Linked DNA regions of Homo sapiens: region 1 is linked to region 2. The links come from fine-mapping of genetic effects on gene expression. A gene starts in region 2. The other region holds a variant in brackets. All regions are shown on one strand. Distances are between the middles of the regions.

Region 1 (4,386 bases), 780 kb after region 2:
TTGAAAACTGGCACAAGACAGGGATGCCCTCTCTCACCGCTCCTATTCAACATAGTGTTGGAAGTTCTGGCCAGGGCAATCAGGCAGGAGAAGGAAATAAAGGGTATTCAATTAGGAAAAGAGGAAGTCAAATTGTCCCTGTTTGCAGACGACATGATTGTTTATCTAGAAAACCCCATTGTCTCAGCCCAAAATCTCCTTAAGCTGATAAGCAACTTCAGCAAAGTCTCAGGATACAAAATCAATGTACAAAAATCACAAGCATTCTTATACACGAACAACAGACAAACAGAGAGCCAAATCATGGGTGAACTCCCATTCACAATTGCTTCAAAGAGAATAAAATACCTAGGAATCCAACTTACAAGGGATGTGAAGGACCTCTTCAAGGAGAACTACAAACCACTGCTCAAGGAAATAAAAGAGGACACAAACAAATGGAAGAACATTCCATGCTCATGGGTAGGAAGAATCAATATCGTGAAAATGGCCATACTGCCCAAGGTAATTTACAGATTCAATGCCATCCCCATCAAGCTACCAATGACTTTCTTCACAGAATTGGAAAAAACTACTTTAAAGTTCATATGGAACCAAAAAAGAGCCCGCATTGCCAAGTCAATCCTAAGCCAAAAGAACAAAGCTGGAGGCATCACACTACCTGACTTCAAACTATACTACAAGGCTACAGTAACCAAAACAGCATGGTACTGGTACCAAAACAGAGATATAGATCAATGGAACAGAACAGAGCCCTCAGAAATAATGCCGCATATCTACAACTATCTGATCTTTGACAAACCTGAGAAAAACAAGCAATGGGGAAAGGATTCCCTATTTAATAAATGGTGCTGGGAAAACTGGCTAGCCATATGTAGAAAGCTGAAACTGGATCCCTTCCTTACACCTTATACAAAAATCAATTCAAGATGGATTAAAGATTTAAACGTTAAACCTAAAACCATAAAAACCCTAGAAGAAAACCTAGGCATTACCATTCAGGACATAGGCGTGGGCAAGGACTTCATGTCCAAAACACCAAAAGCAATGGCAACAAAAGACAAAATTGACAAATGGGATCTAATTAAACTAAAGAGCTTCTGCACAGCAAAAGAAACTACCATCAGAGTGAACAGGCAACCTACAACATGGGAGAAAATTTTTGCAACCTACTCATCTGACAAAGGGCTAATATCCAGAATCTACAATGAACTCAAACAAATTTACAAGAAAAAAACAAACAACCCCATCAAAAAGTGGGCGAAGGACATGAACAGACACTTCTCAAAAGAAGACATTTATGCAGCCAAAAAACACATGAAGAAATGCTCATCATCACTGGCCATCAGAGAAATGCAAATCAAAACCACTATGAGATATCATCTCACACCAGTTAGAATGGCAATCATTAAAAAGTCAGGAAACAACAGGTGCTGGAGAGGATGCGGAGAAATAGGAACACTTTTACACTGTTGGTGGGACTGTAAACTAGTTCATCCATTGTGGAAGTCAGTGTGGTGATTCCTCAGGGATCTAGAACTAGAAATACCATTTGACCCAGCCATCCCATTACTGGGTATATACCCAAATGAGTATAAATCATGCTGCTATAAAGACACATGCACACGTATGTTTATTGCGGCACTATTCACAATAGCAAAGACTTGGAACCAACCCAAATGTCCAACAATGATAGACTGGATTAAGCAAATGTGGCACATATACACCATGGAATACTATGCAGCCATAAAAAATGATGAGTTCATATCCTTTGTAGGGACATGGATGAAAATGGAAACCATCATTCTCAGTAAACTATCACAAGAACAAAAAACCAAACACCGCATATTCTCACTCATAGGTGGGAATTGAACAATGAGATCACATGGACACAGGAAGGGGAATATCACACTCTGGGGACTGTGGTGGGGTCGGGGGAGGGGGGAGGGATAGCATTGGGAGATATACCTAATGCTAGATGACACATTAGTGGGTGCAGCGCACCAGCATGGCACATGTATACATATGTAACTAACCTGCACAATGTGCACATGTACCCTAAAACTTAGAGTATAATAAAAAAATAAAAAAAAAAAAGTTCAATATGTTTATTTAATTCAAAGCTTATTTAAAGGTTATGTGTAAAACAAG[G/A]TAAAAGGAAGCAGGAAATAAGAGATGTAAAGAAAATTATCAATATAAAGAGGCATTTTTTGTATTTAAGGCAAACAGGAAAGTAATTTTATATGAGAAAGAATCTTGCCTAGTGAATTTTTGTTCTAAAATAAAATGACTGGGTTGTTTAAGAAAGTGAAATATTTAGGACAAACCAGAAGGTCCAAGTATGTTGTGAATGGTCTAAGTTGTAATAAGGTTAGTAAAAAGGGAACTTATAAAAGTATTATGTGATTAATTGGTTTTAATTACAGAAAATTATAATAGTTTTTTAAAATTGAACTTTGGTATTTAAAAATATGCTAATACAAAATTAAATAATTGGTTAAAACAAGATTTTATTAAAATATTAACTTATACTTAATGCAAGAGGTTTTTAATTTTTAAATTCTATAATCTGTCTCTTTGAAATTCTTCAGATTAGTATCTCAAAAATTCAGGTCTTTCTCTTTTGAAAAGGCCTTCACCTTTTGTTGGCTCTTGTAACTTTTAATTATCTAAAGTAAGAGAAGAATTTTTTTAAAAAACATGGCAATTAAATATCTTTTGGACCTGCCATTTGTATTCTGCATGCCTGTGATAGCTCTATTCTTATATGTGTCACGTGGAAGTGATAGTTCACTACTGTTAAATCAAGTTTAGCCTAAAGCTGTCTCCTCACATATTTTAAGTTTGGCCTAAGGGTTTTACTGTACATCATGAACTGCTGCAAGTGGAGGTGTAAACAGACTGTACCCTACCTTGTGTCAATCCCAGAGTTTCTGCCAATCAAATGTAGCCAACTGTTCAAACCATGTTCAAATAAGGCAAACACTGAGCTATAACCAATCCAGCTGTTTCTGTTCCTCACTTCCATTTTCTGTTCCTCACTTCCATTTTCTGTACATCACTTTCCTTTTTCTGTCAATAAATCTTTTTCACCATATGGCTGTGCTGGAGTCTGGGCCTACTCTGGGTCAGGAGACTGCCTAATTCACAAATTGTTTATTGTTCAATTAAATGTCTTTAAATTTAATTTGGCTGAAGTTTTTCTTTCATCAGATGGTGTCAGAAGTGGGATCTGAACTAGAGCCTCTAACGAGACCCCCAGGAGTGCTGAGTGACCAAGCAAGGTATCTGCTGGACCCATTGTGTTCGTTTCTCTCTCAGAGTAGTTGAGGATCATGGTAAGGTCTCCCTCAGATGCTGAAGCTCCACGGATTTGTTTTGAACTGAGTTTCTTTGAGCAAGTCTCTGATTTAATCTGGATTTGGAAGTTGTGATGGAAACTGGACTTGGTTCAGGATCAGATTGGATCTGGAATTAATCATCTTGGATCCAGTTAGAGGCCTCCTACATCTGACTGGGTCAGAAAGAAACTGGTAGTAAATGGCAATGTTGCAGGGGATGTAAAATTTGGCTTTTGGAAATTCTCATGGACTTTTGTGTACTACCCCTTTGTTTCATTTTTCATGTGCCATTATGTAGAAAAAAAATTGTCTGAGTTGATCAAGGGAACCTGAGAGCAAGGCCAATATTTGAGGTAAAAATGAGATCCTTAATTTCTTTTTCTCGGTTTTTGTTGTTGTTGTTGTTGTTTTGTTTTGTTTTGTTTTGTTTTTTGAGACAGAGTCTCACTTCATCAACCAGGCTGGAGTGCAGTGGCATGATCTTGGCTCACTGCAATCTTCACCTCCTGGGTTCAACAGATTATCGTGCCTCAGCCTCCCAAGTAGATGGGATTACAGGAGTGTGAAACAACACCAGGCTAATTTTTGTATTTTTAGAGGAGACGTGGATTTTGCCATGTTGGCCAGGCTGGTCTTGAACTCCTGGCTTCAAGTTATTTACCCACCTCAGCCTCCCAAAGTGCTGGGATTACAGGAATGAGCCACCACACCTGCCAAGATCTTTAACTTCTGAAGAACTGAGTTCCTTCCAGCTTAAACATGCGTAAGTATTATACCCTGGAAGCAGCAAAGTTTTACAGAAATGGCAAAATATTACTAAAGATAACTTACAGTGGAACGTTACAAATAAACAACACTGTACTGAAATGAATTTGAAAATAAGGGCTCCCAAATTAGTCTCATCTAGGGATGCCTATTGATGTACAAAACTTCTTTAAAAAATCAGTATTTTTATTAAAAACTTTATGAGGCTGGATGCAGTGACTCATGCCTGTAATCCCAGCACTTTGGGAGGCCTAGGTGGATGGATCACCTGAGGTAGGAG
Region 2 (4,386 bases):
CACCCTCGCCCTAGGAGAGCCAGGCTGAAGGCCTCTAAGGGCTGGGAGCCGATCCGGCCAGGATGCAAGCCTCCCCCACCGCTTCCCGGCTGCGCCGTACAGAACCCCCACCTCTGTTACTTGGCCTTCGCAGCATCCCCCTTCCCATTTCCTGGAGGATCTCTGTGGTCTGGGCAGGAAATTTGTACCCAGTGATAAGGCAGAAGACAATGAAGGGGGGGCCACTAGACCGGAGGCTCTACGGGAGGAAACAATCCCCGCCTCAAGGAGCTGGACGCCCCCTGGGGACCCGGCCCGCTGGCCATTCCGCTGAGGCCGGGCACGCCTGGAGCCTGCAGGTGCTGCCGGCTCTCCCCCAGCCTTTCTACGACACACACCCGGCGGCCAGAAAGGGTTTCCGCCGGGAAACTGCCTGGGGCCCAGAAGGGGCGCGCCCTTCCTTCACCTTGTGGACCACCAGCGACCTCCCCAGGTCCCACATTTATAATTCCACTTTCCAGAAGGTAGAGGAGAGTTAAAAGAGATAGTAACGGACACACTGGGGTCTGGGCACATGCTCCTTGCCCTTCGCCCTGTCAGAAACTAGGAACAGAAGAGGGCCTGAGGCTTTTCTGCTCTCCCTCCTGGGTGTCTGCTGGCTCGGAAGTCACCAACTGGTCCGTTTTTTTCGGTCCCAGGGTCCACGGAGCCACTGGGAGAGAAAAGGAGTCTGGTTGGGTCTGATCGAAGGACACTGGGACAGCCCAAGAAAGGGACCCTTCCGGCCCACAGCCCTCTCCGAGGCCAGAGTGAGGGAGCCGGCAGGGGCCGAAGGAGAGCGAAATGGGCCCGCTCCCCGGGGCTATTTTTAGTCTCCCTCTTTCTCTGAGAAACTCCCCCCGCGGGCTTCTCACGCCCCAGGGGCAGCAGCACTGAGCCGCCGAGGAGCCTACTGAGCCGGAGAGCCTCCTCCAGAGCCCAGAAGAGCGGAGCCGGGCGCCTGCACGTTGCACCGGGGTCACCAGTGCCATTTAACCCTCGAGTGGCTGGCGGGAACTGGGCAACCCCCCAGGGGGACCGATTGGAACTTTTGAGTCCAGGTCTTCAGTCTGACAAACTGAGGCTCAAAGCTGGGGTAGGACAAAGGGTTGCAGATGAGCAGCAGGTGAAGCCTGGGACACTCAGGCAGTCAACTTGAACTGTCCTCCCTGGCTTCAGAGATTCCCCCAGCCCCCACCCCCCACAAGGAAGGGGGATAGAGTTGGGGTGGAATGCAGAAGGAACAGAGCTGAAGTTGAAGTTGGGAAAGGCGGGATGAGAAGTCTGAGGGATCCTGGAGCAGGCCCACCAAGCCCAGAGGGACAGAAGGCTACTTGTGGCCTTGGTGTGGCCTGGGGGGCTGTACTTGAGACTCATTTTGTCCAAGGACTATAATATTGCATGCCCCGACACCTGTGGGGCACAGAACATGCTAAAGGGGACACTGGTGATCCTCATCTCTGTCCCCATCATTGTAGAATTTCACTCTACAGCTTCCCAGGCCTTACTTGTCCTGACATCCTCCAACCTGAGAAATGAGTTAAAGTCAATATAGCTAAACCCACCCTTCACTCCCATTCGAGATCCTTGAAGGGAGATGGCAAGAAAGCTGAGGGACAGCAAGTGAAATAGTTTAAAAGGGCCTAGTCCTGCCGGGTCCTCTCCCAGATGGAGTTCTGAGCCACCCCAGCTTCAGCTGAAGCCAGCGCCCCTGGAGGCCTACAACACTTCCCAAACACTTGCTCCAAGGAGGTTCCCTTCCTCTCTGACCCTTGGCCACCCTCCTCCCAATTTCCCCTCTTCCCTTTGGCTCTGGAAACCAATAAGGGTGGTGGGCCTTGGGGGGGTGGGGTGGTCACAATTCTGTTTCTCTGTGCGTTTGAACCCCTCCCCCATTTCCTGTGTCCCAAATGACCTCACGGTCGTCCTTTTGGGGCACCTCCCTTGATTCCCAGGGCAGGAAGCAGGAGGGGGCAAGAGAGAGCATCTGCGCTGGGGAATTGACACGAAGTGCGTGTGTCAAGCCTGGGGACCAGGGGTATTTCCCCGGGGGATCTTCCTCATCAGCTTGTATGTGGGGTCGGGGATGAGAGGGGGCTAGAGTTAAGTCCTTAAGCTCTTTAGCCAGTGTCTCATCTAGCGGCTCAGCTCATCCGGCTCTGCTGGGTGGGGGGTGGGGAGTGGACAGGGTGAGGAATGGTTCCGATAACTCACCCCAGAGGTATCCAGGTCTTCCGAGAGATGCCCTTACCTCCCCCCGCCATCCGCCCCCACACCCAAACTGGGGGCTGTCCCCGACAAAGCGAGAAGTCAGCGCCAGCCAGTGATGCCCTGGAGTGGGATTAGGAGGTCAGGGGAGGAGGGCGAGTCGTGGGACCCAGTTCCGCAGCAGTGGCCAAAGTTCTCCCTCAGGGTCGAACTCACCCCATCCCGCATCCCAAGTCCCCTCCAGGTCCGGGTTTCACTCACCGAGGGCACTCAGCCCCAGGAACAAAAACCGCAGCAAGTTGGTCACCAGGGGCCCCGGGAGGGAAATCATGGCCCTCCCTGGCCGGGACGGAGTCAGGGGCGCCAGCCGCGGGACGCACGGACCTGCAGGTGCCGAGGCTGCGCGACGGCCGGAGCGTGCGCGGGAGCCGAGCCGCTGACACCCAGGGCGGCTCCAGCCCAAGTCTGCGCGCCTGTGTGCCGGTGGCGGGGTGGGGACCGACGGCGACAGCGGGGCGGGGCATTCGAGGGGGCGGAGAGGTCGCCGTCCTCCCGGGCGGGGCGCGCGGGGTCCGCCGCCCGGGGGCGCCCCCAGCGCGCGGACGGCGGGACCCTGCGGCCTCCTCCAGGTCTGGACGCAGGGAGGGGTGAGGTAAGCTCTGATGCCCCACGAGCCAGCCAGGTACGAGTAGAGGGGGAAGAGGAGGCTCCAGAACTATCCTGAGCCGTAACCTTCCCTTCCGCCGGGGTGGGATAGGAAGGGTGACCAGGAAGGGTGGGAAATTTGGGGACTATCCGAAGTCAGAACCACCCGTAACACCTGACATGTAAACGCTCCTGGGCTCTGGCTCCAAACTTGGGGGTGCCGCATCCCCGGCCCAATCAGGGCGGTCTTCCTGAAGGAGGAAGAGGGGAGCAGCGTTTTCCAGCTGCAGGGAGAGGCCGGAGCGCCGGCCGCGCGGGCTCCCTGGCACAGCGGGAATCTGTGGCTTTCCTGGAGGCGGGGGCTGCGCGGCCACCGGAGCGCGGCAGCGAGGGCGACGGCAGAGGTCGCGCGGGAGCCCAGGGCGCCCCGGGACGCGCCAGCGGGGAATCTTCACCCGCGGGCAGGAAAAAGCGCTCCGCGAGTTCAGCAGACCCCAGCCCAGGCTGGAGGATTACCCCGGCCTGTGCCTCATACTCCGAGCAGGGAAGGTTGGCACAAGGTAGTCCCGGGAGCTGAGCAGGAAACTGAGGCAACGTGCGTGCTGCTCCCAGCTTAGCCCCTGAAATGAGCGGCGTACGGGCCTGATGCTGACTGGGGAGGAGGGGCGGCTGCGGGAAGGAAGACAGGACAGTCCCTCCGTTTCTTCTTTATCCCCCAAATCTTCAGTGCCTCCCATCCCCGCAGCGAAAGGCTCAGGCGCGCTCTGATCCTTTAATTCCCGAGACTAGATCTTGGTCGCTGTGAATTGAATTTTACGCCCCCCTTCCCGCGCCATTCGGTCAAAAGGCACCTCTGCGCCCTCTGGCGGCCGCCGCTCCCTTACAGAAAGGCACGCACCTGTTCTTGCTTTTCTGTCCAACAGCCAAAAAAAAAAAAAAAAAAAAAAAAAAAAAATGCTTCAAACATCCCAGCACAGCTCAACCACCCAGCAAAGGTCAGTGAGGGAAGAAAGCATAACAACGAATTCCTGACGCTGCCCGCTCTGCGGGCAGAGCTGTCTGGGAAGAAAAGCAGCCAGGCCTGCGGGATTCCATTTACTGCACATAGTTTTGCTGTTTTAACAGAGTGTAGTCCCTGGGCCCACACTTCACACAAGATCTTTTTCTATACAGTGCCCCATATGCCCTCTCAGCTGCTTCTTTCTAGTGTGACCTGCCTGGCTCCTCTTCAAATACCTGCCATGCAGTGGCTTTGAGAAATGCCTATGCAAACACAAAACTGCTCATGCAAACCCTAGAATCTAGTACTTGGCAGCTCAGTGGAGGCACAGACAACAGGAAGAGATACCTGCCAGTCTCACACTCTTGTGTAGGGAGCTACAAACTTGGACTTGGCCAAGCAGATTGTGTGGTGGGGTTGGGGGCTGTTGGTTTGGTTTTCCTATTCCATCACACTCAAATTTTTCTTGGCTTTAGTCTGCATTGCAAACCATCTCTTGTAAACACCCCTCCTTT

Alleles and levels. Positions count from the first base shown, and alleles are read on the strand shown. Sizes are in standard deviations (SD) of each study's normalised expression.
With allele G in place of A in region 1, the expression in breast of the gene that starts at base 2,693 in region 2 is lower (small effect, 0.14 SD a copy in GTEx).

Evidence for each region. PIP is the estimated chance that this variant, and not a neighbour inherited with it, causes the effect. A credible set is the group of variants that fine-mapping cannot tell apart.
Region 1: its variant is the best candidate, but not a certain one, in a credible set for the expression of ESAM in breast (GTEx, PIP 0.78).

The regions. Positions count from the first base shown.
Region 1 is chr11:125,540,551-125,544,936 of GRCh38, forward strand. No RefSeq gene overlaps it. Among named protein-coding and RNA genes, the nearest start is that of EI24, 27 kb to the right of the region's middle. The variant G/A (reference allele first, on the strand shown) is at 2,152.
Region 2 is chr11:124,759,598-124,763,983 of GRCh38, forward strand. ESAM (endothelial cell adhesion molecule) reads right to left here and starts at 2,693. Exons shown (of 7, transcript NM_138961.3): 1 at 2,488-2,693. The coding sequence starts at 2,557. The region is part of intron 1 of ESAM-AS1 (ESAM antisense RNA 1); the gene reads left to right. RefSeq lists enhancers at 284-353, 2,248-2,751 and silencers at 2,482-2,891, 3,432-3,481.